Linked DNA regions of Homo sapiens. The protein of the gene in region 1 interacts with the protein of each later gene in a biochemical or structural test. Each region holds a gene or a part of one and is shown on either strand. Other genes may lie near its edges.

Evidence for each region.
Region 2: the proteins of BMPR1A (region 1) and BAMBI form a complex in vitro, tested with the Homo sapiens proteins (one study listed by BioGRID).
Region 3: the proteins of BMPR1A (region 1) and BMP7 form a complex in vitro, tested with the Homo sapiens proteins (2 studies listed by BioGRID).
Region 4: the proteins of BMPR1A (region 1) and FST are reported together in a solved structure, tested with the Homo sapiens proteins (one study listed by BioGRID).

Annotation. Positions count from the first base shown.
Region 1 is NC_000010.11:86,912,875-86,921,235, forward strand, and holds part of BMPR1A (bone morphogenetic protein receptor type-1A isoform 3 precursor), read left to right. Parts: intron 1-4,259; coding exon 4,260-4,452; intron 4,453-6,297; coding exon 6,298-6,595; intron 6,596-8,361. UniProt on the Homo sapiens protein: On ligand binding, forms a receptor complex consisting of two type II and two type I transmembrane serine/threonine kinases.
Region 2 is NC_000010.11:28,679,086-28,685,133, forward strand, and holds the end of BAMBI (BMP and activin membrane-bound inhibitor homolog precursor), read left to right. Parts: intron 1-2,172; coding exon 2,173-2,460; intron 2,461-2,897; coding exon 2,898-3,316; 3' UTR 3,317-3,847; downstream 3,848-6,048. UniProt on the Homo sapiens protein: Negatively regulates TGF-beta signaling.
Region 3 is NC_000020.11:57,253,955-57,264,090, reverse strand, and holds part of BMP7 (bone morphogenetic protein 7 preproprotein), read left to right. Parts: intron 1-10,136. UniProt on the Homo sapiens protein: Growth factor of the TGF-beta superfamily that plays important role in various biological processes, including embryogenesis, hematopoiesis, neurogenesis and skeletal morphogenesis.
Region 4 is NC_000005.10:53,482,397-53,489,538, forward strand, and holds the end of FST (follistatin isoform FST344 precursor), read left to right. Parts: exon of another isoform or gene 1-119; coding exon of another isoform or gene 120-189; intron 190-483; coding exon 484-675; intron 676-1,107; coding exon 1,108-1,326; intron 1,327-1,672; coding exon 1,673-1,897; coding exon of another isoform or gene 1,898-1,936; intron 1,937-2,600; coding exon 2,601-2,831; intron 2,832-3,290; coding exon of another isoform or gene 3,291-3,292; exon of another isoform or gene 3,293-3,531; coding exon of another isoform or gene 3,532-3,554; coding exon 3,555-3,637; 3' UTR 3,638-4,738; downstream 4,739-7,142. UniProt on the Homo sapiens protein: Multifunctional regulatory protein whose primary function is to antagonize members of the transforming growth factor beta (TGF-beta) superfamily including activin, myostatin, GDF11 or bone morphogenetic proteins (BMPs).

The DNA.
Region 1 (8,361 bases):
AGTTCAATAAAAAATAATTTTAAAGGGAATTACAAATAAATTCCAACAAATTTGGATGGATTCTTGGTATCAGGGAAAAAAAAATAATCCCAGCAGGTTCATTTATATATGGAAATACTCAGTTTTGGGTTGAAGGAACTCTTATTTGAGAGGACCTGTATTATGAACACTAGATATCCAGATAGGTTTAAGTTTTTAATTGTATTAGTTGAAAGAAACTGATCTCTTCTTATTTTATTTTATTTTACTTTATTTTATTTTAATCGTATCGAGATAGTCTTGCTCTGTCACCCAGGCTGGAGTGCAGTGGCCCAGTCTTCGGCTCACTGCAACCCCTGCTTCCCAAGTTCAAGCAATTCCCGTCTCAGCCTCCGAAGTAGCTGGAATTACCAGATGCACCACCACACCAGGCTAATTTTTTTTTTTTTTTTTTTTTGAGGGATGAGGTTTCTCCATGTTGGCCAGGCTGGTCTCAAACTCCTGGCCTCAACTGATCCTTCCACCTTGGCTCCTAAAGTGCTGGGATTACAGGTGTGAACCACCGCACCCACCCTGATCTCTAATTTTGAAATTCATCTTATTAAATAACTCTAATTGAATTGGAAAGGTAAAAGTAAAACTGCCTTCATAGGCAGACAACATGATTGTTTACGTAGAAAATCCCAAGAATGGTACAATAAAACTACTGCAGCCAGTAAATGACTTTATCAGGTTGCAGAATACAGAGTCATTGTACAAATACCATTGAATTTATAGGCTCTAGCAACAAACAATTAGGTAATTATAAAAACAGTATTTAAAATAGCATCAAAAACCATGAAATATTTAGAATAAGCCTAACAATTTATGCAAGACCTGCACACTGAAAATTATAAAACATTGCTGAAAGAAATTAATAAAGCCCTAAATAAGTGGAGATGTTTATAAATCTGAGGACTCAGTATTAAGATTTCAGTTTTCCTCAAATTGGTGTGTAATTTCATTCGAATCCAAATGAAAATCAGAGCAAACTTTTATAGCAATTGATGTATATTCTAACATTTATATGGAAATGCAAAGGACTAGAAGAGCCAAAACAATTTTGAAGTAGAAGAACAAAGAGGAATCACTACCTGATTTCTGGACTTACCGTAAAACTCAATAATGATCTCAATTTGGTACTGGCATAAGGATAGATGTATTGATGAATGGAACAGATTATGGAGTTTAGAAAGGAACATGCACTTAATATGGTTAATTGATTAAAAAAAAAAAAACAAAAAGATGCCCAAGTAATTCAATTGGAAAAAGGCAGTCCATTTAACAGATGGTGCAGGAAATATCAGGAATCCATTTACCAAGAAGTTAATCTCAGTCCTTACCTCCTCACTCTATACCAAATTAACTTGAAATGTAGCATAGACCTAAATGTAAAAGTTGAAGTATAAAACCTCTAAAAGAAAATGTCTGAAAAAATTATTCTGACCTTGGGCAGACTTCTTCAGTACATAAAAAACACAAATCATTTTTTTAATGATAAATCAGGCTTTATCAAAATTTAAAACTTCTGCTATTTAGAAGACAAGAAAATGAGAAGACAAGTCACAGATTGGCAAAACAGATCTGATACAGGGTTTTTGTGCAAAATATATAAAGACCTTTTGCAACTCAATAATAAGATAACCCAATTTTTTTAAAAAATGGACAAAAGATTTGAACAGACACTTCCCCAAAGAAGATATAAGAATGGCAAACAAGCACATGAAAAGATGCTCAGCATCAGCAGGGATATACAAATTAAACACAGTAAGATACTACTGCACATCCACTAGTATAGCTAAGACTGATAATATTAAGTGGTGCCAAAGATGTAGATCAACTAGAAATCTCATACATTGCTGGTTGGAATGCAAAATGGTATGGCTATTTTGAAAAATAGTTTGACAATTGCCTGGAAAGTTAAGGGCATACTTTCCGTACAATGAAGCAATCCTTCTGCTAATTATTTACCCAAGAGATATGAAAACTTGTCCACACCAGAGGCCTGAATGTGAATGTTTATAGCAGTTTTATTTATAATAGACATAAACTGGAAACAACCCCAAAGCTCATGAATTGCTAAATGAATAAACAAATGCTGGTACATTCATACAGTGGAATATTACTCATCAGTAAAAAGGAACAACTTCTAACACATGTAGCAGCAACAGTGGGTGAATTTCAAAAGTACTTTATGCTACATGAAAGAAGCCAGACACAAAAGGCTACACAAAAGTGATTCTCCTGCCTCAGCCTCCCAAGTAGCTGGGATTAAGGCATGCACCACCATGCCCAGCTAATTTTTGTATTTTTTTTTAAGTAGAGACAGGGTTTCACCATGTTGGCCAGGCTGGTCTTGAACTCCTGACCTCAGGTGATCCACCCGCCTCGGCCTCCCAAAGTGTTGGGATTACAGGCGTGAGCCACCACGCCTGGCCAAAAAGTGAGAATTTTTTTACGTTATTAAAATATTCTGTATCTTAATTGTGGTATTGGTGATTACATGATATAGATTTGTCCAAGGCTTGTTGAACTTTTCTCAAAAAGGGTACATTTTATATAAATTATACCTCAATAATCTTGACTTAAAAACTTACAGGCTGAGGCAGGCAGATCACTTGAGGTCAGGTGTTCGAGACCAGTCTGGCCAACATGGTGAAACCCTGTCTCTACTAAAAATACAAAAATTAGCTGGACGTGGTGGCAGATGCCTGTAATCCCAGCTGCTCGGGAGGCTGAGGCAGGAAATTGTTTTAACTGGGGAGGCAGAAGTTGCAGTGAGCTGAGATTGGCCGCCGCACTCCAGCCTGAGCAACGGAGCGAGACTCTGTCTCAAAAAAACAGAACAAAATTTACAAAAGGATTCTATAATAAATGATACATAAAGTCACTTTAGCTTTGCACTAAATCTAGTCCATTTTAGAAGCATTTCCAACTTGGAGCATAATGTTCTTTTTAATTTAGAATGATCACTAATGCTTCTGAAAATGAAAGATAACAATCCATGTACATCTTTTATTTAACAAATATTAAAGTACTTCTGATATTGTCCCAAATAAATACTTATATTCTGTGAGCAGGGGATGGAATTCAAGCAAATATATATGTAAATAAGAATAAAGTTATGATTGTGTTAAGCGCAGCAACTGAGAGGTTTTGTGTGCTATGAAGGTGTTTAAGTGAGAAAATAGCACTCTAAGTAAAGGGAACTGGATATTCAAAAAAACCCAGCGACAGGAATAAGCTTGAGTGAATTCTAAAAGTTGAGATAAGTCAAACGAGGTTTGTGGGTGGGTGGTCAAAGCAAATAATGGGACCAGGCCAGATCAGGCAGGGTCTTATAGATGGGATTTTTAAGATCTTTAACTGTTATTTGGACTTTGCTGCATAATAAACCACCCCAAAACTTAGTGATGTGAAGCAACAAACATTATTTCTCATTCTGTGAGTCTGTGGGGCAGTTCATTTGTTGGACTTGCTTAGCTAGAGCTAGGTGGTGTAGTTCACACCCTTGGCCGACAGTTCATGCTGCCATTATTTTTTGGTCACAGGGTTCCCAAAGCAGCAGGAAGGGGGCAAGCCCCAGTCCACAAACATTTGTCAGGTCTTTGCTTGCATCACGTTCGCTGTTGTTCTTTTATCCAAAGCAAGTCATGTGGCCTAAGCCCTGAGTCTGTGGACCAAGACTACCCACGACTGTGTGCACTGGGAGGGTAATTATTATGACCATTTTTGCAAACAGCCAGCCACTTGAATAACCTGTTTATGATTTCAGAATACATTGTACATTGTTTCATACTTTAAAGTACATTATGGCCGGGCATGGTGGCTCACGCCTGTAATCCCAGCATTATGGGAGGCCGGGGGTGGGGTGGATCACCTGAGGTCAGGAGTTCAAGACCAGCCTGGTCAACGTGGCTAAACCCCATCTCTACTAAAAATACAAAAAAATTAGCTGGGCATGGTGGCGGGTGTCTGTAATCCCAGCTACTTGGGAGGCTGAGGCAGGAGAATCACTTGAATCTAAAAGGTGAAGGTTGCAGTGAGCCGAGATCGCGCCACTGCACTCCATCCTGGGTGACAGAGCGAGACTCCATCTCAAAAAAAAAAAAGTACATTATAAGTTTTTAACTGGAGTTGGTTGGGTACACCATGCTTTTTGATGAGATGGACTACCCCTTTGCCAGTCTTAATGGGTTTCTTTCATCAAGAGCTCAAACCTTTTACTTTTTTCTATAAAGGTTCAGCGAACTATTGCCAAACAGATTCAGATGGTCCGGCAAGTTGGTAAAGGCCGATATGGAGAAGTATGGATGGGCAAATGGCGTGGCGAAAAAGTGGCGGTGAAAGTATTCTTTACCACTGAAGAAGCCAGCTGGTTTCGAGAAACAGAAATCTACCAAACTGTGCTAATGCGCCATGAAAACATACTTGGTGGGTACACACTGATTCAGTCAATTTCATTTTTGACAAGGCTAGTGAGGTACAGGTGGAAGCCTCCATATGTGCTTTGAAAATGTGTGAGTTCAACTATATACATTTGGCTAAAGGAAACCTAGTAGAATACACGGTTTGAATAAAACATAGTCCGGAATGCCAACCAAGATCTTTCTTTACTAACCAGCTGAAGAAACAGCAGTGAGTTTCAAATGGAAAATAATACTAGTTTATTGGACTTACTCCCATAGTAATGAAAACCCAGTCTTTTATAGATAACTTAAGCAGTGATTTAGGGTAACATTAACATATGTGCCTTTTCCCTTTCATAAGCTCAACAGCCCAACATGCAGTTTCATTGTACGTTCTGTGTTTAATGTGTGTTTCCCCCCATCTCCACATTTACACAATAGCAAAGTAATTTAGGTGTGAGCTGGTCAGTCAGGTACATAAGCCGATCTGGCTATCCTGAGTTTTCTTTTCCCTTCACCTCTTGTTTTCCTCCCTTTAATTTGGAGAGCCCATAGCATGTTGCCAAGCAGGCAATTGTATTAGTTTCCTAGGGCTGCTGTATCAATTACCACAAACTGGGTGGCTTCAACCTCCAAAACGTATTCACTCAGTTTTCGAGGCTAGAAGTTTAAAACCAAGGTGTTGGCAGAGCTGTTGTGTCTCTGAATACTCTAGAGGAGGAGCCTTCCTTGCCTCCTCTGGCTACTGGTTGGTGGCCAGGAATTTTTGGTGTTCCTTGGCTTAGTATAGACAACACTCTAGTCTCCATTTCTGTCATCAGGTGGCCTTCTCCCTGGGTGCCTGGGTCCACATTTCCACCTTACAACATCACCAGCCATTGAATTCGGGCCCACGCTAATCCTGTATGAGTCATCTTAACTTGATTACATCTGCAAAGACCCTCTTTCCAAATAAGGTCACGTTTATAGATGACATGGATTTTAGACATGAATTTTGTCGGGGAGCACTGTTCAGCTCAGTACATAGCACTCACTGACCTTTTTCTGGAGGGAAGAGGGTAGGAGAGAAAGGAAAAGAGCAGGACTGTGGGCCTGGCAGTCAACGAGCCAGACTGAAAAGGCAGCTGTGATGAGTCACTGATGGGCAAATGGGAGTTGGCTTAATTAGGAGCTAACTCTTAGTTGAACATTCTTAATTTTATAAAAGTGTCCACTTTTTGCTTTGAAATTGAGAGCCTTTTCTACTAGAGAATCATGTAGGTTGATAATATTCTCCAGGTTATTTGTATAATATGTCATCTTTTTCTTTTCTTTCCTTTTCTTTTCTTTTTTTTTTTTTTGAGACGGAGTCTCATTCTGTCGCTCAGGCTGGAGTGCAGTGGCGCCATCTTGGCTCACTGCAACCTCTGCCGCCAGGTTCAAGTGATTCTCTTGCCTCAGCCTCCAGAGTAGCCGGGACCACAGGCACTTGCCACCATGCCCAACTAATTTTTGTATTTTTAGTAGAGACGGGGTTTCGCCCTGTTGGCCAGGCTGGTCTCGAGCTCCTGACCTCAAGTGATCCTCCTGCCTTGGCCTCCCAAAGTGATACAGGTGTGAGCCACCACACCCAGCATATATGATCTTTTTCTTAATCCTATTCACTTTCATGATTATTAAGATTATTATAAATTTATTGTAGAAGTACAGATATATGTGTAAATGTAGAAATATAATTTTTAGTAACACATTCACGACTTGGTGTCAGGCGAATTAAAGTTTCACTATCTGCACATGATACCTAAGTTTTTCTCAGTATCCAGAATGAGCATTACTTCTCCCTAGCCTATCTCTGATGATAACTAACCTTTTAAACTCATCAACTGGACAGGTTTCATAGCGGCAGACATTAAAGGTACAGGTTCCTGGACTCAGCTCTATTTGATTACTGATTACCATGAAAATGGATCTCTCTATGACTTCCTGAAATGTGCTACACTGGACACCAGAGCCCTGCTTAAATTGGCTTATTCAGCTGCCTGTGGTCTGTGCCACCTGCACACAGAAATTTATGGCACCCAAGGAAAGCCCGCAATTGCTCATCGAGACCTAAAGAGCAAAAACATCCTCATCAAGAAAAATGGGAGTTGCTGCATTGCTGACCTGGGCCTTGCTGTTAAATTCAACAGGTGAGTGGTTCTTTGCCCCACTGTTTTGAAATTATTTTAATTTCCAAAAGATATTTCCCTATTTGTATTCAAGATAATGGAATTCTAAAAATGTGCATATGCTTGTTTTTAGTTACATAAATGTATAGTTGGGGGGGATTTTGTTCTTTTTACAAAAATTGTGTCCTACTTCTCCTATACATAATTCTTGATATATATATATTTTTTTGGTGTTTTTTTTTGTTTGTTTTTTGTTTTTTGTTTTTTGTTTTTTTTAAAGACAGTGTCTCACTCAGTTGCCCAGGCTGGAATATAGTAGTGTGATCTTAGCTCACTGCAACCTCGACCTCATGGGCTCAAGCAATCCTCCCACCTCAGCCTCCTGAGTAGCTGGGACTACAGGCATGCACTGCCACACCTAGCTAATGTTTTTATTTTTTGCGGAGATGGGGTCTCACTGTGTTGCCTAGGCTGGTCTCAAACTCCTAGGCTCAGCTGATCCTCCCAAAGTGCTGGGATTACAGGTGTGTGCCATATAGTCTTAGCCATCCTTCCATTTCAGCTGATGTAAATCTACTTCATTCTTTTTAACAGATGCAGAGTTTTCCATATGTGGAGGTACTGTAGTTTATTCTTAAGACCCAACTGATGAACATTAAAGGTGTCTTCAGTTGATTATGAAAAGGTTTTTTAATGAACATTGTTGTATTTTAACCATATATTATATATTTGATCCTTGTGCACTTGTACAAGCATTTCTTCATGATGGATTCCTAGAGAAGGGCCTGCTGAGGCAGTGAGTTTATACATATTAAACTATGGTATGTTGCATATTATTTCTTTCAGCAGTGTGCCTCAGTTTACACACCCGTAAGCAGTAGAGATAAGGATGTCATTTTTCTGTCACCACTTGATAGTGTCAGTATTTTAAAACAAATGCAAGTGTTAGAAATTACAAATTTTTAGGAAACCTTTGAAACCATTTTAATCTTGTAATTCTAGAATGGAGTGGCTGCTTTACATTTCAGAATTCATTTTAGGCTGTAATATAAAAGTACCAGTCTTTAAAACAACTGTAAGAGACATTTAAATCTGTTACAGTGTTCTGAGTCAGTGTAGTATTTGTTGGCTCAGATATTTATCAGATGCTATAGGAAAATACAACGCATTATATTGATCACTGCTTTAGAGTAATTATTACTAATTGTCAGTATGATCATGTAAACATTGCTAACAACAGAACTCTGTTGATGGGACCCATAAAGAAGAAAATGTAATCCTATGTCACAAAGCCTTAGTGTATCATATGAGAGTGGTAAAAGCAAGCGATTCCTCTTGTATTTTCATATTCACCACTTCTCAGACATAATTATCTACTACTTTATCTTTTTTTTTTCCTTTTCTTTTCTTTTTTTTTTTTTTTTTGAGAGAGATTCTCACTCTGTTGCCCAGGCTGGAGTGCAGTGGCATGGTCTCGGCTCACTGCAGTCTCCGCCTCCCAGGTTCAAGTAATTTTCGTGCTTCAGCCTCCCAAGTAGCTGGAATTATAGTCATGTGCCACCAACCCTGGTTAACTTTTGTATTTTATAGAGACAGTGTTTTACCATGTTGGCCAGGCTGATCTTGAACACCTGACCTCAGGTGATGCGCCCGCCTTGGCCTCCCAAAGTGCTGAGATTACAGGCATGAGCAACCGTGCCTGGCTTAACTTTATCTTATATTCAGTGTTGTCCTCTTTCTTAGACACCAGACTTATTTAGTGACAAAACCTGACCTGAACGGATGTG
Region 2 (6,048 bases), about 58 Mb from region 1:
TTATTTATTTTGGAAGGAAGGGTGTAATTAACCCTAAATAACAGCCCTTGTGGCTTGCAGAGGGGAGCCTCCTGGCCCTATCAAAGGCGGGCAGAACAGGGAGGGACTGAGGCTGACATGAAGTCACAGATACCGAAACTATGTGCCTGATAATGATATAATTAGGGGATCAGAGATTTCTGACGGCTGCGGACTTCAAAAGCTTTAAAAGAAGCCAGCAGTCTCTCCTGTAGCCATCTTGACTAAAGCAGACATTTTTGTTTAATCACTACATACAGTAACGAGAAGGGGACAGAAACAGAAGGGCATTGTTCCACAGTTTCAAAATACCAGTCCCCTTTCTGGCCTTTTGCATGCCACAGGAAGAAACTTTATGAACGACAGAAATATAGTTTTAATACAGTGGTACAAAAGTCCATTCTCCTTGCTTAAAATGTGGCTCCAATTAAAAAAAAAAGGTAGTTAGAACTTTCCCAGTTACCTGTCAAAATTTTATTAGGCTGTTTTTAGGTCATTGAAAATAGGCTCTCATAAACATTTAAGCAGCATTTTACTTGTATTCAGTCTTCCTTTTCTGTACAAGGTCTGAAGCTAATAGGGTCAAAATGGGCTTTTAATCTGTTTTATTTATACTTTAAATCTATATATGGAATTTGTCAAACTAGGGATATGTAGTCATCACCCCAGAAGACTGGTGAGCTTTATGTGGAAAATAAAGTGAGCTTGGAGGGAGGAGGAGAAAGAGCAGAGAAGTGGTTCTGCAAAGCAAGGTTCTTACTTGAAGCAGAGAAGGAACTTGGGCCCAACCAGTGCAGATTTAGGAGCAAGACCCCTAGCTTTGGACTGTTAAGGGTTGCCAAAGATCTGTGTTTAGCGGGCTGGTTTTCCTTAGAACCGAAGCATTAGCAGCGTCCGGTGAAAACTGAGCATACAATACCGTGGTCTGGAATTTGGACAGATAATTAAATGAGACACCTTACTGGGGCGTTCAGAGAGAGGGGGAAGAATAAAGGTAAGGGTGGGAAGAGGTTTGTAAAACAGCAGATCCCGGTGTTTAATTTCAGAGTGGAGGTTTCGGATCTTCAGACGGGAAACTGGAAGAGGCGTGTGCATTAGTTTAGTTTACTCGCTGTGGCATGTGACAGCGACCAGGGTCCACTAGGTGGATATTGTATTAGTGAGAACTTGAAGACCCAGATTATTTCAACGAGAAACTGATATTAAAGCCTCCAATCTTGCCCTGCGACAAAATGTGAACGGAGCCATGCAACTCACAAAATAAGTTTTTATAAAGGAAACTTTTAATCACTTCCTGTAGAAAATTTGAGGTTTCCTTAAGGATTTTTCATTCAACCAGCAGAGGATTTTCAGTTTCAGTGTTTCCCCTTTTAGATCACATGTCGAATTACATGTAAAACTTGTGAGGAGGAGGAGGAGAAGTTAGCCTTGCAGTTTTATACTCCCCCCACCTTTTATGACTTTCCATTTGGGCTGAAAGAAATTGACTTTGGCAAGCAAACCACTAATTGTAAACTGCCTAGTTCCTGTTTTACAATATACTGACTAAAAGCTCCTCTGCATGAAAAGATCTTTATAGGCAAAAAGTTTGCCTTTTCTAGAGAGGTTGCAAATAGCTGCCTAGTTTCATAGTTTTAAAACCTCCTGACCTGGGCAGTTTCTAGATTGTTGTGTTTCTAGTTAATAACTTTATAAGGTGTTAGCTAAAGCTCTTAACTCTTGGTGCAGTCCTGTGGGATAGTAAACAATTCAGTAGTTCCGATCAAATATTTATACTGACAAAATCAAAAAGCCTAACATTTTTATGTTGTATGGTCATGTAGGATTAAAATGAATAAATAATGTGTTATACCTTATGGTAGGAGAAATTATACTCATTACTATTTCCTTCAAAAAGCAAAAGTTTTTTTAAAATGACTCTAAACTCCTCAGAAACCTGCTATTGGGATTACTACATTGCCAAAATGACGTTTAACTGGATTGAAACTTACGCACTGGCTGCAGGAAGGGCTTCTCCAGGCTCTGTAGACTGGAGCCCTCAGCTTGGATGATCTAAAAGTTCATGCCTTTGAATTTGGGATTTAGCAGTTGCCTAAATAGTTGCTTTATCTGGTCTCTGGAGCAGAGTTTGAGGTGGTTTCTCATTGTTTTCAGGTGAAATTCGATGCTACTGTGATGCTGCCCACTGTGTAGCCACTGGTTATATGTGTAAATCTGAGCTCAGCGCCTGCTTCTCTAGACTTCTTGATCCTCAGAACTCAAATTCCCCACTCACCCATGGCTGCCTGGACTCTCTTGCAAGCACGACAGACATCTGCCAAGCCAAACAGGCCCGAAACCACTCTGGCACCACCATACCCACATTGGAATGCTGTCATGAAGACATGTGCAATTACAGAGGGCTGCACGATGTTCTCTCTCCTCCCAGGGGTGAGGCCTCAGGTAGGTGGAAGCCGTTTCTAACCAGAATGCCTGCCTGATCTATAGACTTGTGACAGCCACGACTTTGTATGTCTGCTATTGATTTTGTTGTTAATGTAATTAGAGACACCAGAGGGAGAAGCCTGGCTGGATGCAAAGATGCATCTTGATTGAGTGGCTTTTATGTCTGAGCATTAGATGTCTGTCTACATAATAGGTTTTGCCTGTTTTTTCAACATTTTGAAGACATTAAAAGGCCATTACATCTCAGTAATGACAGTCTGTAAACAAATGCGTTTGTAAGCTTCTTCAGATAGTTTTGCAATGTTTTCTAAATATCGTTGATTTAATTGTAAGCTTCTTTTTAATGGAATTCTTGGTTAAAATGAATTGATGATTATGAATATCCCTAGGAGGAGTTAGCATGGAGTTTGATCATTTTCTTTGTACTCCTTTAGGACAAGGAAACAGGTATCAGCATGATGGTAGCAGAAACCTTATCACCAAGGTGCAGGAGCTGACTTCTTCCAAAGAGTTGTGGTTCCGGGCAGCGGTCATTGCCGTGCCCATTGCTGGAGGGCTGATTTTAGTGTTGCTTATTATGTTGGCCCTGAGGATGCTTCGAAGTGAAAATAAGAGGCTGCAGGATCAGCGGCAACAGATGCTCTCCCGTTTGCACTACAGCTTTCACGGACACCATTCCAAAAAGGGGCAGGTTGCAAAGTTAGACTTGGAATGCATGGTGCCGGTCAGTGGGCACGAGAACTGCTGTCTGACCTGTGATAAAATGAGACAAGCAGACCTCAGCAACGATAAGATCCTCTCGCTTGTTCACTGGGGCATGTACAGTGGGCACGGGAAGCTGGAATTCGTATGACGGAGTCTTATCTGAACTACACTTACTGAACAGCTTGAAGGCCTTTTGAGTTCTGCTGGACAGGAGCACTTTATCTGAAGACAAACTCATTTAATCATCTTTGAGAGACAAAATGACCTCTGCAAACAGAATCTTGGATATTTCTTCTGAAGGATTATTTGCACAGACTTAAATACAGTTAAATGTGTTATTTGCTTTTAAAATTATAAAAAGCAAAGAGAAGACTTTGTACACACTGTCACCAGGGTTATTTGCATCCAAGGGAGCTGGAATTGAGTACCTAAATAAACAAAAATGTGCCCTATGTAAGCTTCTACATCTTGATTTATTGTAAAGATTTAAAAGAAATATATATATTTTGTCTGAAATTTAATAGTGTCTTTCATAAATTTAACTGGGAAACGTGAGACAGTACATGTTAATTATACAAATGGCCATTTGCTGTTAATAATTTGTTCTCAACTCTAGGATGTGGCTTGGTTTTTTTTTTTCTCTTTTCTTTTTTAAACAAGACCAAGATCTTGCTTATTCTTCCATGTGCCTGTGTAATTTTCTTACAGTGTGGAGTTTCTAAATGTATACTGACCATCTTTTAGTGTCTTACCCACATTCTGGCTATAGGATAACTCTGGTTTTAGCTTTCATCTAAGAAGGAGATCTGGAATTTATGTGTACCAGGTCAGATATGATTGATCAATTTCTGGAGTTGACCTAGCAAAGGTCATTTTGATCCAGGTGTTCCGGAATACCTTTTCCAATGTGTATACCTCCACCCAAAAAAGAAAAAAAAACCAACTAAACAACTGTTTTTTTGTTCAAGTCAGTCACTGTCTCCTTTTACTGTTGATTAATTGGCCAGTTTATTTTGTCCTAAGCCAAATTAAGTATTTTGGCTCCCCAATTAGCCAAACCTTACTGTACAACACACTTAATTTTAAACCTTGTGCTTCAACAGTGTGATGCTTTTTTTTTTTTTAATACTTAGAAAGCTTTTCTGTAGTGAACACGATACACCAATTGATTTAAATAACTGCTACTAGGTTTCATCCTCCCAAATGATCCTTTATGTAACCAAATAGAACATTGGCTTTAGCCAGTAACTAATACAGCTAGGAAACAATGTTTCCTCTTATAAGACTTTTTGTCCTGATAACATTGCCCATCCTGAATTTAAACGTATGCTTTATTTGTGTACTTCCCGTGCCCCCAGTGGATCTTTCTTATTTTAAATGTGAGAATATTATGCCATGGAGGGTATCTTCTGAATTCCTTTGTATATGTGAAATTTTTGCTTAAAAGTTAACCCGTAGGCCGGGCGCGGTGGCTCACACCTGTAATCCTAGCACTTTGGGAGGCCGAGGCAGGTGGATCACAAGGTAAGGAGTTCAAGACCAGCCTGGCCAACATAGTGAAACCCTGTCTCTACTAAAAATGCAAAAATTAGCTGGGCGTGGTGGCGTGCATCTGTAGTCCCAGCTACTCGGGAGGCTGAGGCAGGAGAATTGCTTGAACCCAGGAGGCAGAGGTTGTAAGCTGAGATTGTGCCACTGCACTCCAGCCTGGGCAACAGAGGGAGACTCCATCTCAAAAAAAAAAAATTACAGCCTGCATATTCGAGTATGGGGTTTTCTTTTATTAATATTAATAGACCACCTGCCCCAAAAAACTAAGCTGTGGAATAAACACATATTAATAAATGATAGCATTCGTACTGTCCCTTTTAAGATGAGCAGCTCTTGCATGCATGCCTTATATTTTATAAAAGATGTTAAGCTTTATGTATGTCAGTTTTTGAGGAAGCCAAAGAATTGTTGAACCCAACCCTTCAAACCTGTCAAGGGAATTGATCAAAGTTGTCTGTTGGTGAAATTTCCACCCTCACCTCCACCTCTGGCTCTTTGAGTCTCACTCTGTCGCCCGGGCTGGAGTCCGGTGGCGCCATATGTATCACTACAACCTCCACCCCACTCGCCACACACCACACGTGGTGCACACCACCCTGCCCCCTGCCCCGCCGCGGGTTCAAGCGATTCTCCTGCCTCAGCCTCTGAAGCAGCTGGGATTACAGCCACCCACCACCATGCCTGGCTAATTTCTGTATTTTTAGTAGAGACAGGGTTTTCACCATGTTGGCCAGGCTGGTCCCAAACTCCTGACCTCAAGTGATCCTCCTGCCTCAGCCTCCTAAAGTGCTGGGATTAAGGTGTGAGCCACTCTGCCCAACCCCACTCTGGCTCTTGATCACATTATAGTAGATTGTAGTTTAGAGATGAAAGGACTTCTTGCTCCTTGTACATTCTCATTTCATGTACGACATTATGCAAGCTCAGCAATTCTTCAAGTGGCCAGTTTTTATATCTGTTACGTAGTCAGAGTTTCTTTTCTCTGCTTGCCCTGATGAGGGCCGGTTCACCTCATTTTTTCCAAGTACAGGTTAACCAGGAACTCTGCAATTCTTTAGGAAATAAAACAATGAAGGATTTAAAGTCATGTGCTTTGAAACACTTTGAAATCAGTGAACCCCTTCCTCCCAGAGAGGCCTATGTCTGGACTGGTGTTACCACAAACTTCATGGAGGATGCATGCAGCCTCTCCACTTGATCTTGGGCCTTTGTTCTTCCTATTGTATATTCACGAGGCTATTTACAGCTCCCTGTACTGTGGGGAGGTGGCACTGTGCCCATGGCCTCTCAGTTTTCTGGGGCTCCGCTTCTAGCCACATAATAGGCCAG
Region 3 (10,136 bases), on another chromosome or scaffold:
AAAGTTTAAATTATACTAAGCAGCCAGTTAAGAAGGAAGCAGCAACATATGACCTGATTTAGAACCATCTCCAAGATGTATGAGGTGGAAAGAAGCAAGGTGCAGATGAGTGGGCTGCATGTGTGCTTGTATATCATCGTGTCCTCCTGGAGGAAGACACCAGGAACTGGAGAGAGATTTTACTGGAGGGGTAGAGAGGCGGGGGCATAGCTGGGGCTTACGGAGTGGGAGGTGGGGTCTGATTTTTCGTCGTCTGCACTTCTGTATTTGTGATTTTTTTAAAACAATGTGTATTTATTAACTATACCAAAAACTAAAGGAAAATTCCAAATACATACATATAAATAATGAACGCAGAGCTCTGTCGCCCTCCTGAAGCCTGGGGTTAGCCAGGGCCCTTTCTCTGGTGGGGGATTTATAGCATCTTCCCTTCTGTTGGGTACCCCGGACTCCCACTGAATGTGCAGGTCCCAGTGGCTGCCTTCAGAGCCTGGCTGGAATCATTAAAAAGGTATTTGTAATCTCTGGCTTCTGCAGAAGGCCCTGCAAACCAAGAGCAAAAAAGCCCCCAGTGCTTATGGGCCGGCAGTGTGGGCTAGGCCCCGGGGCTCCCTGTCCCCAAGAGAAAGACCAGGTTGCTCGGAGGGTGCCTCTGGGAACTTTGGTGCGGGCTATTTGCTCCCCCCATGGCGGCAGGAGCAAGCTGGGACTTGTTTGGGAAGGCCACAGCTGGGTGGTTTTCCTCCTCTGGCTGTACATACACCTTTCAATCCATTTCTTTCATCTTGAAAGGACAAAGACCGGCTTGTCTGAGCCTCTTAATCAGTCAGGCTGGCTTTGGGCTTTGTGGGACCCTGACTTTCTCAGGTCTAGCTTTCTGGGACATCACTCCAAATTAGATGGCAGAGTGGCTTTTAACAGAGCGCACTGACCTTGTTTTCTTTCTCTCTCTGTCCCTAAACTCGAGGTCATTAGTTAGGTGAAGACCTGGGCTGCAGTTTGGCGAGACACTTCCTGTAGATGCTTCTAATGTTGGCCTTTAATTTCTGCTAAGCAGCAGCACACAAATAAATGGCCTGTCCCTTCTATCCTGTTGTAGCTTGGAATTTCTCCATAGGAGGGACTTGGGGGTGGCAGTAGGGTTGGAGAGGGTTGGGGGGAGGTGTAGGAGACTTGTCTGGCCACTGAGTTTGCTGAGAAAGTACTGCTATAGTGTTTTTCCTTGGATTGCAAATCATGTTGATCTGTAGTATTCGAAGTTTTCTAAAGGCAAGTTTATTCTCACAATTTACATAAGAGTGAGAAAATATCACTTGCACATATCAAACTATTACTTCTTATTATGGTGGGAGTTTGGCGGGGGGGGCATGGGTGAGGATCTTGGCAGCCTCTGCTGCCCCTTCGCCCTGCACTGCAGAGCTCTGCTGTCTTGCAGGCAGGCGGCCTGCGTGCGCGGGAGGGGGGACCCTTGCCTGAATTCTGAAGGCTTTTGCAGACCTGGTGCATTTATTCTTCCTTCTGTCTGCCGCCAAACTGGTTTTTGTTCCTATAAGTCGTTCTTGGAATTCAAGTTTTTTGCCAGGCTGAGCGGGATCTAAACTAGAGGGGAAACTAGAGGGGAATTTACGACAAAACCAGGTGGTGGGAATGAGGACTAAAGGCCGCACCTTATGACAAAGCCCAGCCTGTACCATAAAGCCCCAGGCAATGTGAACTGAGCTGCCTGAGTGAGACTCCCATCTTCCCAGCCTGGGCCCCTTAAGTTCAATGGCAAGATTTGTAAACTGGTTTGGATTAACAACCCCGACTCCTCTTTGTAGACTTAATTTTGGAATTCAAAACAGCTACCCTCTCTTAAATAATCCCCAGGCAATGGCGACTCCGCACACTGCATCTAGCCATAGCCCGTTACCATTCTTTCTCTGGGAAGATCCAGCAGCTCTGTTAGGAATCTTGTAAAGTAGCCGGCTGGCACTAGGGGAGTGGAAGTCATCATGTTTATCTCTGGTCCAGGTAATGAAGGCATGAAATTTGTGTAATCTTTGAAGGAAAAGAAGAGAAAGTTGGAAACCTATCATTATTGGAGTCAGCCTATAAAAGTGGCTTTTGTTAATGTAGCTGAAGAGTAGGGAGAAGGCCGTGCAGTTTGATTTTTGCTTTATGCCATCTGGCTGTCCTTTTTGTTGACAAGTGTTTGGCATTAAGACCTCTCCCACTGCCCGTCAAGAGCAGGCCCTACCACTGTAGAGTATTAGAAAAAGATTCTGTTACAGTTTAAAAATTTCCTTCAGGGAGTGCTTCGCAAAGGGGAGCGTGGACTGCAGGCATTTGCAGCTGTAACCTGGCTTGTGTTAAAATTTGGAAGGGGCTGCTCCACATTCCAGCACTCGGAGCGCCGGCCCTCACTGGTGAGCAGCCAAAGGTTAATATAGATGTCACACAGCTCCCCCCTTCTTTCTTTCTGCAGAGCGCCTTTGCTATAGGAGTGCACCAACAGCTGTGTTTTTCGTAACCCTTTCAAAATCACTTCTTTTAAACCTCATTTTCCTGCTTATATAAATCAAAGATTTTCCTCCACTTTTCCCAAGCATGTATGTGACCCAGCTTTGAACTTTTTTCATTTTCTATGTATTTTCCTTCTGGAATCAAGGCAGGGTAAGGCTGAGCCCTGGATGCCAACTTGGGTGGCTGTTTTTGGTTTTGGTTCCAGGGTTGTCATTCGGTTGTGGAGCGGTCCCCATGGAAGGGGTAACAGAGATGGCCCACTTGCAAATCAGTTTCAGGGCAGCAAGGGGGATGATTGTCTGAATGCACAGACAGACGAAACCGCTTTTGAGATGCAGCCCTCTCAAGCTACGGTTTGGGGCTTTACCATGGCGTAGTAGGCTCTCAAGCCTTTGCCGAGATAAACACAGCTGGTGCGCGATCCCCTCACCACCGGAATGCCTGCGATGTGAGTGAATATCACGTGTCCGCTGAACTCAGAGACAACTGGTGACTTCATTCCAGGGAGAGTCCCATCTAAGTTGATTGATCACTCCTATCACTTTAATATCTCTCCCTCATTTGGTAAGGTCATATTTGGCCCATTGCAAGAATCAGCGTGCCCTAAGTCTCCCCCGTCTCCACCCTTCCCCATCTGCCCATCCGTGTAACAGCCTGAATATTTTGAATGGGGAGCCCTTTGCACCATGCTTCTGGCCACATTAATTCTTTCACGCTCACTCTTCAGTCTTAGCGGGGGGGCTGTTGGCACACTGGTTTCTTGGCAAGCCACTGCAAGGCTTCGCCTTAATGCACTCTGGCACTGTCACCGGGGTTAGGGCACAGGCAGGGATGTGTGGGACCTGTCATGTTATTGTCAGAAGGAATGTGCGGATTAGCCTTTACAGCGTAGTGGTGGGAGAGCACTGCAGCTGTGTACACTTATTATAAAAGATTTAAGTCCCACTGGTAAAATCAATATATTGAATTGCACAACCCTCTGCTTTTAATTAGTTTAAATCAAATGCGCCGGTGCCATTTTGCCTTCTCTCGCCTTCATGGGGTGAGGAACTACCAATATTTACATAGAAACTGTTAATTTGTGGTGAAAATGATAACACATTTAGCTTTACACACTCAAATTGCTCCAACTTGATGGATCCCAGATCAACGTGGAGTTGAGCTGAGGAGATGACGTCACCAGGAGCGGGGAGGAGACACCCGTGATGTCTGTTGCTTGGACCCTGGATTCCAGATGCAGGTGGACATGTGTGTAGAGGCAGTGACTGGGGATGCTGGTCCTTCAAGAAGCGAGCTGGTTCTTTCTATTGCAGGTCAAAAACAATGAGATTTACCTACATCATCTAAAATCCTTTCTCGGAAGCATTCTTACAAAATTGCGAAGTGGGCACTTGCTCTTGGGTCATTTTGAGCCTGTTCTCACAGCATGCAAGGGTCATGTACTGGGCAGCTCAAGGCACGGTGCTTTATTTATTCCAGAGCTTCACATGCTTTTCTTTCCAATCCCTGAAACAGTTTATAGAGGAAGGGCGTTTGTTCACTGCAAATGATCCCATGTACGACCGCGGCTATTAGTGAGCCGTTTGGTATTAGCTGTGTGTTCAAGCTGGGATTGAATTCCGGGTTTTGCAGCAAATGGCATCTGACAAATAATAATTGACAAAAAATGTGACTTGGTATTTCTTAATATGGAACAGATAGTTCATTTAAGCTTCCCCGGCAAAAAAAAAATTGCTCAAACTCAAACTGAAATAGCAATGCCAGGGAATACTAGGACTGCTGCTGTGTATTTTTTTCCGCTCCAAAGTAGAGTGTTTATGATTTGGGGGGATATTAGAGTGCATGAAGTTTGACACTTACTTATGCGAAACTCAGGCAAGCATGTGCAATACCGCCTTTTCAACATTTGTGTCGGAAGGCATTGTGGGGAGCCGCGCAAAGCCTGTGCTGATCCGCGTGGAGTGGATTGAATTAATGACAACTCCGAGAGCACCAGCTTTAGGGTAATTGCTTTATTGTTTTGGAGCCAGGGTGCATATAATCCGGTTCCTGTGCAAACATGTTGAACGTGTGTTAATGCATTTCCAAACCAGAGCCTCTCACACAACCCTGCTTTTCATTAATTGATGTCGGTAGCATGGTACAGTATTTCAAAGGGCTGGCCAAGTATAAACTGTGTTTCCAATTTCCTTCCTTTCCTGTGTTTGGAATGCCAATGTTAATTTGTTCCCATGCAGGAGCGGGGGCTGCCAACCGCGGCTTTCTATAAAGGGCTTCACAGTGAAGGCTTCCAGCCCTCGCTGATGCTTGGGGCTGCCTGGCCAAGTCTCCTGACACTTTGCAGCTAATTCTGGGTGATATATGGGGTGGGGGATTGGGGGCTTCACTGCCGTGTAACGGAAGTTCTCGGTGACAGCAGTGGGTGTGACTTGGCAAGGGAGATTGGAACGGCATCCACAGTGATTCTCTTTAGACACAGCCTAAACCTATGTGTCTGTTTCCACTATGACAGCACATTAGCTGTGTGACCTTGGGCAAGTTACTTAACATCTCTGCATTTGTGTCCTCATTTTATAAAGGCTACAAGAGAATCTCTTCCTCAACAGATTCTAAAGAAATAGAAATCATATCACCCATGCGCAGAGGCTGTCACCTAGTAGGTGTAAAACAAATGGTAGCTCTTGTTTTTATTGTGTTGGCCAGATGAAGATTTACGTTGGTATATTAGTCCAAATTTCAGTTTTTAAGTACTTAATCTTAAAATACTGAGATTAAACTGCCCATGTTATTTTAAATGTCAAGAAAATGGTCCCCAGAGTGTGAATATGTGTGCGCCTCCCTCTTTCAGAGATCAATGGAATTTGAATGAATGCACCAAACTTATTTGAGGATGAATAGAGTCTAAGGCTGAATCTTTTCCCCAATTTTAGCATCTATGGTTATTTAATGATTTTACTACTTGGGAAACTGGAACTCAGTGAGAGGGTATACCGGAACTCTCTGTAGTGCCTTTGCAACTTTGAATTAAAAATTAATTTCAAAATAAAATGTTTCATTTAAAAAATTGCATTATTGAAGTATTTCTTCCCAATCCTTTCTGGAAGATGGTCAAAGTACAAATTGTCTTTTCCTTCAAGGGAGTGACAAGCCCAAAGCATTCATTAACAGAACTGCACAACTTCCCCACTTTTTATTGGAGCAGGTGCAAGGCTGCCCAAGGCTCCCGCAGCTGGGGTTAGGCTGCAACAACAAAGCCCTGTGTGGATTCAGCATGTTTAGAAGCCTCTAGAGACCAGAGGACGAAAGAGAATGGCTTCAGGGCCAGATACCGAGGGGTGGCGTTTCTCATTCAAGACTTTCCATAAATTCCCTTCAGCTCTTTATACTGTTTGAAAAATCCGACTCACCAAGTATTAGGTTTCCCTGCATCTCTGAGGTCACGTGTTCTATCACATCTTTATCTCCCTGGAGTAGCTTTCAAGTTTCAATCTTTTGTTGCCTGGCTTAATTAAAATTGGCCACGAATAAAAACTTGCACCGTTTCCAAAATCGAGGACTTGTGTGTTTCTAAGCATTGGGTTTAGGCCTGCCCTGTCTTGTGCTTCCAGCCTGTCTTCTGCTTTCATGTAGCTTGGACTACATGAAGAAAAAGAAAAAGCTAAGCTCTTAGCATGACAGTTGGCATATAATGGTCCAAGTGCTCATCCCCCTGGCAACTTACACACACAAAGGCAGGCAAGTTTTTTTTTTTTTTTTTTTTTGGTGGCTTGTGTTTTGGCCTTCAATAAAGGACACTTTTCCTGTTTTTTTTCAGACAGCCTTATTCTCCTGCCCATGCACAGCCTTGCAGAATTCTCATGGCATAGAAGGTGCTCAGATATTGGTTGTTTCGGTGCACATATGGCATGAAGACATTCTAAGCAGTCTCTTCTAAATGCTTTTGATCTCCAATTCCCACTACTACCTTTTCAGGTACATACCTTAAATAGTAATAAGTTGTATAACTACTGCAGGATAGCTAGGATAGCTTGTGCTTCATAAAACATAGACAAAAATAGAAATTTAAGTAGGAGACACTAAAGCTAAAAGCAATACAAAATTTTGGTGTTTGTTAATTAATACAAATTTTAACTAATGAATCATTTTAATTTTAATTGTTAACACAATTTTAATTAACAATATACATTTAATTAAAATTAAATTTTAATATAATTTAATTAAGTTTGCAGTCATGAAAATTTGCGGTGCAATGGACTGTTCTTTGGTGTTTTCAAAATCATGATTTAACAGTTTAGAATCACTGATCTAAAGGCCTGGTCCCAAATTTCGATGACCCTTCATCTGGTCAGTATAAATGAAGTTATTGTGTGTGAAGAAACTCACAATCTTGGTGCGTTAAAAATCCCAGAAGTTTGTTTTTCATTTGTATCACATTATAGCTCTATCGTGGGTTCAGGGTGGAGGCGTGGAGTTCTGCACATTGGTGGCAGCAGAGTCCCTGGGAGAGGCTGAGGTCCTCAGAATGTTACGAATAAGGTGCCAGAAGGAAAGATAATGTGAACTGTGCGTTGGCTTTTAATATTTCTACCTGGGAGTGACTTTCTAACTTCAAAAATTTCTATTTTTGTCTGTTTTATGAAGTACAAATGATCCTAACTAGTAGTTATACAACTTATTTCTTTTTTTCTTTTTTTTTTGAGATGGAGTTTCGCTTTTGTTGCCCAGGCTGGAGTGCAGTGGCGCGATCTTGGCTCACTGCAACCTCCGCCTTCTGGGTTCAAGTGATTCTCCTGCCTCAGCCTCCGAAGTTGCTAGGATTATAGGTGCCCACCACCACGCCCAGCTAATTTTTGTTATTTTTTTTTATTTTTTATTTTTAGTAGAAATGGGGTTTCGCCATGTTGGCCAGGCTGGCCTCAAACTCCTGACCTCAGGTTTTATCCACCCGCCTTGGCCTCCCAAAGTGCTGGGATAACAGGCGTAAGCCACCTTGCCCAGCCACAACTTATTTCTATTTAGGGTATGTACCCCAAAATTTACTCTTCCACCTGAAAGAGCTTCTGCTCACATTTCATGGGCCAAAGTGAGCCATGTGGCCAAACCTGACCCAAGGTTGGCAAGGAGATGACGATACCACTGCTTGCTCAGAAAGGCAAAGCACCAGAGAGCGTCCAGGAAATGGCACAGATGACACCACGCTATCATGATTGAAGTGTCTCTCACAAGATTCAAAGACAGAAATGTGGGAAGTAAGTTGTGGGGTGTGTTACTGAAACCAGAGCTTCATTTTTCAACCCCACCTGTCAATTATGCAGATATTTTTGTTGAAGCTAGTGAACTCCCATGATTGTCAGTTGGAATTTGCATAACAATTATAATTGTAATATATCTTTTCCTGACTCCCAGTGGGTTCCTCTTGCCTCCTCCCATCTTGCGCTTCATTTTGGAGACTGATGTTCTGGAGGCTTCCATCTCACTGAAGTACTCAATTGGTTCAACAACAATAACATCTCTTTCCATTCCCACTTGTAAAGTGACTTCCCTGTTTATGACTTGTCTTTCAGCAAAGGCAAGCTTCAGCTTTTGTCCGGTTCACTATCTAGAGAATTAAGAAGCATTACTCTGCTCCTGGCTAATGAGGTGACTGCTGGTGTTTCCCCGGAAGATACAGGTTATCACTTCGCCATGAAATCTTGTCCACAATGGAAGAGCTGCTTGCTTTCTCTCCTGGGCCTTGGAGACATTCCTTTTTCTTTCTTTCTTTTTTTTTTTTTTTTTTTTTTTTTGAGATGGAGTCTCTCGCTATCCCCCAGGCTGGAGTGTAGTGGCATGATCTCCACTCACTGCAACCTCCACCTCTGGGCTTCAAGCAATTCTCCTGCCTCAGCCTCCTGAGTAGCAGGGATTACAGGCTCCCACAACCACGCCCGGCTAATTTTTGTATTTTTAGTAGAGACGGTGTTTCACCATGTTGGCCAGGCTGGTCTTAAACTTCTGACCTCAAGTGATCCACCTGCCTCAGCCTCCCAAGGTGTTAAGATTACAGGCGTGAGCCACTGCAACTGGCCCCTTAGAGACATTTCTTAGTCCAGGCAGGATCTTGCATAGGCTGAATCTAGACATTAAATTCAGAGACCCCTTCATCATCTAAATGCATCACTGAAATGGATTGTAGACCTCAGAGGGCTAAGACCTTTCTGTGTAGCAGCAATGGATTCAGAGTAGCCATCTTTATGGGGCCCTCATGCAGTTCTCTCAGTATTCTGCAGGGTAAGCAGTGTCATTTCCATTTTAGAGAGGAGGATGCTGAAGGGGCCCAAACATGCACAGCTAGGAAGTGTGGGGCAGATGTGTCTGTCCAGCTCTTGCTGGGTGCAGAGCTGCCCATTCTTTCCTCCTGAACCTGTGGGGTATCGAATAGGTAGCGGGGAGCGTGGAGGAGATGATGTTGAGACCATTAAAACAGAAGCCGAGCCCATGGCCTTGACTCTGTGGTCCCGTGTTCTGATAAGTGACATAGAGATAAGCAGGCACACACCTTTCCCTTCTGTTATCCACCCTGCTTGTGATACCTCCCCTCTCCTCGGTCTTTATGGTTTAAAAATAATTGTCAGGGCATAGGGCCCTGAGTGCCTGTGGGGGGCACCTACATGTACCCCATAACCCTTCCATGGGGAAATTCCATAGCCAGCCAGAGATTGGTATTTTAATAGCAATTCCTCAAGATGCTGTATAAAAAAGACCACAGAAACAGTTTTTTTCCGTATGTCCCAGCATGCCTTTGTGTACGGTCTGTAGTATTGTAAACTCCCCAAAATCAAAATGTGCATGAACAGGGGATTCGAGAGAGAAGCAGGTGTAGCTCTGGGAGGGGATATGGAATAGTCGCCCCAGCGCAGGGACTTCTTTTTGTTTTTGTTTTTTGTTTTTTTTTTTTTACTGTATCAATGTAGACTGGAAACAATGTCAGAAGGAGAAAGCAAGTAGCAGAAGGATGTTTAGGATGTAACCATTTGTTAATTACACACATAGGCACCCCCGCCCCCAACCTCCCACACAAGGGGACCAACTCATAAATGTATTGTTTGTGGGTTCATACACATTGCAGTAATACCATGGACACATGGGCAGGAAGGACTCCCTACCTTCAGGGTGAGAGCTGCCCGTGGGGAGGAGGGAAAGGATAGTTTTGATGAGAGTTTCAAATAAATCTCACCTATTTCTGTCAAGTTTTCTGTCTTTTAATAAGAAGAAACCAAAAGAGGCTGGGCGCGGTGGCTCACGCCTGTAATCCCAGCACTTTGGGAGGCTGAGGTGGGTGGGTCATCTGAGGTCAGGAGTTCGAGACCAGCCTGGCCAACATGGTGAAACCCCGTTTCTACTAAAAATACAAAAATTAGTGGGGTGTGGTGGTACACACCTTTAGTCCCAGCTACTTGGGAGGCTGAGGCAAGAGAATCGCTTGAACCCGGGAGGCAGAGGTTGCAGTAAGCCGAGATCACATCACTGCACTCCAGCCTGGGTGACAGAGCAACTCTGTCTCAAAAAAAAAAAAAAAAAAAAAAAAAGGAAAGAAACCAAAAGAAAATACAATGTGGTATCCTGGACTGGATCTTAGGCCAGAACAAGGA
Region 4 (7,142 bases), on another chromosome or scaffold:
ACCCCTGTCACAAATAATTCCTGTACCCGCCTACATGAAACCAGCATGTAAAAACATCCGTCGCATCCTGTTTTTGTCAGGTTCTTTAATCTGCTCTTCGAGTCTCTGCAGGTTATGAAATGGGACGAATAAAAGTAAACAGTCTAGTAAAAGTCAATGCAAGCTGCACGTGTTGTGTCTGGGTCACTGGTAACTGACATTGATATGGCTGGGGCGCCCTGTCTTCTCCCTCTCTCCCTCCCTCCCTCTCGCCCACCTCCCATCTCTGTGATCAGGGCTTCCCCCTCCACTGCCTTCTTTTTCCACCCCTCCACCCCTTTCGATTTATTTCCTACTTTTCTCCCGCGTCTCTCTCACTTCCCCTCCTCCACGCTCACCCCCTCCCCATCCCCGCCGGGTCTCCTTCGCTAGCCACCTCGCTCTCCCTGCCCTGCCACCGCTCACTGCTCACTCACCCACCTCCCCACCCTTGTCTCTTCACAGCTGGGAACTGCTGGCTCCGTCAAGCGAAGAACGGCCGCTGCCAGGTCCTGTACAAGACCGAACTGAGCAAGGAGGAGTGCTGCAGCACCGGCCGGCTGAGCACCTCGTGGACCGAGGAGGACGTGAATGACAACACACTCTTCAAGTGGATGATTTTCAACGGGGGCGCCCCCAACTGCATCCCCTGTAAAGGTAGGACTCCTTCTTCCCAACTTGCAGGCCCTCAGTAGAGGGCGTCTTACCCTTAGCTTCCCCACTACCTGACTGGGGTTTGGGAGTAGGAGAGCTTTGTTCCTGGGCTTCCCCTTCCTGTCCCTTGCCCTGGTAAGCCGTGCAGACTCTAATTCTGCCTGTTACAGGCTGTAGGGAATACACGCCAGACTTCTTAGCCAAGTGTGGTGGTGAAACCCACCAACCTGTGCTCCTTAATGAGAGAGATCTGGGTGTGGGGCACAGCCCAAGGTCCACACTCTTTCACCAACTCCCAATATTCCAGGAGAGAGCCTGGGGCCCCTCCAGCGCAAACTCAGGGCTGCATGATTGCGCAAGGCACCCGAAGCCCTCCTGGCTGACCTGCAGACTGCCTGGCTCTGGTTTTAATCCATGCCTGTTTCTAACTCACAGAAACGTGTGAGAACGTGGACTGTGGACCTGGGAAAAAATGCCGAATGAACAAGAAGAACAAACCCCGCTGCGTCTGCGCCCCGGATTGTTCCAACATCACCTGGAAGGGTCCAGTCTGCGGGCTGGATGGGAAAACCTACCGCAATGAATGTGCACTCCTAAAGGCAAGATGTAAAGAGCAGCCAGAACTGGAAGTCCAGTACCAAGGCAGATGTAAAAGTAGGTCCTACCCTGTTGAGCAAGACTGGATCTGTCCCCTCCTCCAGCTTTGTACCTAAAGTAGACCCTCTAGAAGACCCTTGGGGGATGGTGTAGTCCGCAGTAAGAGCCTGATAATAGTAATACTGAAACCAAATAAAGGAGTCCTTTTCTAACCTCTAGAGATTCATTAAGAACACTGAGGGGACCAACCTAGTCATAGATTCTCTCTTGAAAACTACAGGGCTCCCTAAGTGCCTTTTGAAAGCTGGATGCTTCAGTGTCATGATTTCCTTGGTAACTTCAAGTGCTCACTCCCTAAGGACTAGAAGGTACCTATTCATGTGTGTTTCCTTCTTTGTTCCAGAGACTTGTCGGGATGTTTTCTGTCCAGGCAGCTCCACATGTGTGGTGGACCAGACCAATAATGCCTACTGTGTGACCTGTAATCGGATTTGCCCAGAGCCTGCTTCCTCTGAGCAATATCTCTGTGGGAATGATGGAGTCACCTACTCCAGTGCCTGCCACCTGAGAAAGGCTACCTGCCTGCTGGGCAGATCTATTGGATTAGCCTATGAGGGAAAGTGTATCAGTAGGTATTCTGGATTGAGGAAGGAAAAAGAGAAAACAGGCTAGTTCTATTATTAAACTGTGGGGTTAACTAATAAGTAAAGCCCAAGGCGTCCCCAAACACCATAGGGAGAAATACGCTGCAATTTGGGGAAAGTGTTGTGACCACAGTATTCCTCATGGAAACCATTGTCTTCTGGAGGCATTGACACATATATTCAAATGCCAGCAGGAAGCAAGGAACAGTATTCCGTCTTAGAAAACTTAGAACTTACTCAATTTTACACATTTTTTTAAGTGCCAGACTTGCTGGAAGCGAAAAATAATTACTTAGCAGTTCCAGAAATCTGTTGTCAGATTCTAGTAATTAATGGAATTCTTTCTTTTGTAAAAGATCCCACTTGTGGGAAATAATAAGATACATATTTAACTTGAGAATATTGTAAAATCCTGTTCTTAAAAAAATACCCTTTTAATGCACTAATGTAGTATGTAAGAAACTGCAGGGGTTTTGTGCGTGTGTATGTGTGTGTGCATTTGAGTTTCAGTTTTATTATCCAGCATTTTTGCATAATATCTCCATTACCCCCATTAGTAATAGGCTATTACTATTATGTTTATATAAAATAAATTATGTTTATATTTATTGATAGAGGACTAGAGAAAGGGAGAAAAGGGGGATATGGGGAAATCAGTTTACTCATCACAGATGTATTATATCCTAGAAGCAAAGTCCTGTGAAGATATCCAGTGCACTGGTGGGAAAAAATGTTTATGGGATTTCAAGGTTGGGAGAGGCCGGTGTTCCCTCTGTGATGAGCTGTGCCCTGACAGTAAGTCGGATGAGCCTGTCTGTGCCAGTGACAATGCCACTTATGCCAGCGAGTGTGCCATGAAGGAAGCTGCCTGCTCCTCAGGTGTGCTACTGGAAGTAAAGCACTCCGGATCTTGCAACTGTAAGTGCGATTTTTAACCTTGCTGCCATTTAAGGCTTTCCCAGGCAATCCCTAGGGAATGGACACTTACAAAGCACGCAGATCTCCCATAAATCCATTTCTGTTCAAATTAGGTAGCTGCTAAGTATCACCAGCAATTCAATAATCCACAGAAAATTCTCTGCGATGTTTCTTGGCTTTTAGGACTTATCTGGTGATCATCAATGGGGTTGCCTCTAGAAATCTATTTCCAGTTGTTTTCCCCTATTTCTTGTGTTTTGGTAGTGTGCTTTGCTGTTTGCTTTATTAACATTTGAGTCTAAACTAACTGCTTCAAAAGTTTTTTTTTTTTTTTTCCAACGACAGCTTCATATTATCACACATGGGCTGCTGCTTTTTGCAGTTGCCTCTACTAACTCTGAATTAAGGACCCAAAGCAGTTATACCTAGAACACAAGAGCGCTTTTTATCTAATTTCAGGAATCTGCCCGTAAAACCTGAGCCATTGATTCTTCAGAACTTTCTGCAGTTTTTGACTTCATAGATTATGCTTTAAAAAAATTTTTTTAACTTATTGCATAACAGCAGATGCCAAAAACAAAAAAAGCATCTCACTGCAAGTCACATAAAAATGCAACGCTGTAATATGGCTGTATCAGAGGGCTTTGAAAACATACACTGAGCTGCTTCTGCGCTGTTGTTGTCCGTATTTAAACAACAGCTCCCCTGTATTCCCCCATCTAGCCATTTCGGAAGACACCGAGGAAGAGGAGGAAGATGAAGACCAGGACTACAGCTTTCCTATATCTTCTATTCTAGAGTGGTAAACTCTCTATAAGTGTTCAGTGTTGACATAGCCTTTGTGCAAAAAAAAAAAAAAAAAAAAAGAAAAAGAAAAAAAGAAAAATATATTGTCCATACTGTAAATAAGTGTATGCTTATTTATTTGGGGGGAAAACTATACATTAAAGGACCTTTGTCCTAAAGCTCTCTCCCAGGCCACCTTGTTACTCATTGGACACGGAGAGGCATTCATTGTGAGGTCTACTGGATGAGGCCCATAGTTGAGACTTGTAGACATTTATTTATACTGTGTCATGTTTTATAATTTATACATAAAATGTCTGGTTGACTGTATACCTTGTTTTTGAAGAAATTTATTCGTGAAAGGAAGAGCAGTTGTTATTTATTGTGAGGTCTCTTGCTTGTAAAGTAAAAGCTTTTTTTCCTTGTAAACCATTTAAGTCCATTCCTTACTATTCACTCACTCATCTGTCTCCCTTCATTTCACTGTTAGACTCTTTTCCACTTTCAACAAACTTGCATGTCAGTTTCTGTCATGTTTATTTATTGGATTCTCTGCTGCCTGATCTGTACATACATGATCCCTCGGGTTTTGTTTACAAGGAACCTTGACTGACCAAAAGGCATTATAACTCTGACTCAAATACAAGGTACAGAAGATAAGCATCTTTGAGGAAACTCCTACTTCAGTTCTTTTGTTATGATGAAGACATTTGTGAGAGAGGAGATGATTAGAATTCTAGTAATGTACTTTTAAGATGTTACAGATACAAAGAAATGATGTGGGTGTCAGGAGACTAAAGGATGTTGAAGGCTACACATTCAACCTTTTGTTAGGTGTTTCCTTTAAGCTACTCAGCTGTACCTTTTAAATTAGTTCTTTTTCAACCAGTATATCACTAAAAGTTATATCAAAGCTTTATCAGTTCAAGTTTCTTGCTTTTCATAATACTTTTTTCTGATGCAATTTTATATTTTCAAACATGGCAAGTTAAAATATAAATTCATTTAAATATATAGTTTTGTACTTTTCTACCATGTAAATGTGCAATGTATATAAAAGTTATAATGTGTATTTGTAAATAAATGATGAGTGAAAAAATAAAAAAATTTTAAAAAGCCAATGGTTTCAATTCCTGATGATGCAAAGAAGTTATTTGGACTTTTGAGTAAAAATGTGTATGATACCTTTGCTGAGGAATGTAGCTATCTCTGAAATTACATGGCCAGGGCAGTACAGATCACTTCACTGGAGTTTGAAAGATAAAGGGATCTGAGGTCCAGCAACCCCACTGTAGGAGTGGCATATACCTGTCACTAACCACAGAAGGAACAGACTGTAGATGTGGGTTCTTTCCTGCAATATGCCAAGGCTAATATTTCCTCTTTAAAAACACCATCGTTTTAGCTGTCCTTGTTGCAAGCTCATCACCATAGCCAGGGACACGCTTCATCTTACTTTCCCATAAATCCAGTGCAGTTTCAGTCTTTTAAAAAACAACACACATCACAAGGAAAGCTGACAACAGATATAATATTTGACAAACACATTCTAGAAATCAGAATATCAGCTGCAGAAGTAGACATTATAGTGTTGGAATGCTAGGGACTTGATGAGGTGAGGATGGGGTGGAGGTGAATTTCCACAATGATGTCCATGGTTAGGGATCAAATAATGTCACTCATTGTAAGAGGAAGTGTATCAATATTTCACAGTTTACACTAGACACTATTAGAGCTTCAGAATGGTGTTTAGGACATCAGTCAATGGTCCCTGTAATACATAGGAATACATAACTAGATCATAAACATAAGTTTCCAATTCATTGTGTGCTACATACTCAAAGCCTAAATATATTAAAAATATCAAAGAAGTACAAGATGCAAGCCTCAGATTGGCATTTGGGCCATCATTCACTAGTCCCTGTAATATAATGCATAGGAATATATAACTGGAGCATCAACACAAGTTTCTGATTCAATTCCAATTCCAATTATGTACTTACATATTCAAAGCCTAATTATATTTAAAATATCAGAAATTCAAGATGTAAAGAAGTATCAGGACTGTGGGAGGGAAAGAGCAAAGTATAGTCAATATTACCAGCATCGCTAAACAATAATAAACATATCATTTCTTTCAAACACCATGACCCAAGTTCTTCTTAAAAGTTTATCCCTTTTGTAAAAAGCCTCTTTAATATGAATAGTTATTCAAAATTGTTGCCAGAGACTGTTGGCTCTCAACTGTGGCCACCTAATGAGAAATTTGGTGGAGGTAGAGGGACCTCTTCAGTAGACAGTTTATATAATGATTAGAGCCCTGTTGGATCTTGTTACCTTTCAGCCCTGTGTTCCCCAAAAGGAAAAGAGAGGTGCAGAAAACAAACAGGCTGCCATTAACTGCAAAAGACAAGGGTCGTAACTTCTCCGGTGTAGATTAGCTACTGGCTTGCCACTAGAGAGAGGCTCTCGGGAAAGGAAACGGGCAGATATGGTTTCACAGCCCTTCGTGGAGTTGATTTGTTGCTTGATCCTGGGATGCTACAGATGCTTTAAAGCTGCCACTGACGATCAGAGTAAAAACGTCAAATTTAACAGGCACCGATGTGTGTCTTGGCAATGGGAAGTGATAAAATCAACAGCTTGCCTTAGAAAACATCCAGATTATTTATTTAAAATTTTTATTCCAAATTTGTCAGCATCAATCATTCCTCTTAAACACTGGACGGTATCTCGTTTTCCTCCTTGGAGTTTTCCACTTTTCCAGTCACCTAGCATTACACTTATTAGTACCAAAAAAATAGAAATCTCTTTTAAAATTAAAAGTAGATTAATATCTTTAGACTATTGTTAGAATTTCAACTATGGCCCAAAAAAGTCTAATTCACATGCATATAGTGTAATTAATAGAATGGAATTACAAAATATAAATTAATAATAAAAGATCTGTCAGAAGCCTAATTTAAATTAAAATGTTTATATACTACATGGGATATGATTCCTCAAGTATAGCAAAAATAAAGTCTGGCTAATTAAAGTTATTCTCAAATGGGATAGCTAAATGCAGTACCTGACCTTTGATCAGATCTTGTTCCTAAGGAAAATAATGCTGTAAATAACAATATTGGGCCGGTTGATAAAATCAGAATACTGTCCAAAGATTAAAGTATTGCATCAATGTTAAATCTACTAAAATTTGATTACTGTGTTGTGGTTATGTGAGAGAATACTCTTTGACTCAGGAAATACACACTGAAGTATTTTGGAAAAGGGGCCACAATGTATAAAACTTACTCTTAAATGACTTAGAAAAAAATATATAGGTTTTATTATTTTGTTCACATGTATGCAAAGAGGGAGTACATGAATGATAAAGAAAATGGAATAAAATGTTAACAATAAGCGAATCTCAATAAAAGTTATAGGGTATTTTTAGCACTATCTTTATCTTTGCAACTTTCCTATGAGTTTGAAAATATCGTATATCCAAATAAAAAGTTAATGCTTTTTTTAAAAAGTCATTCT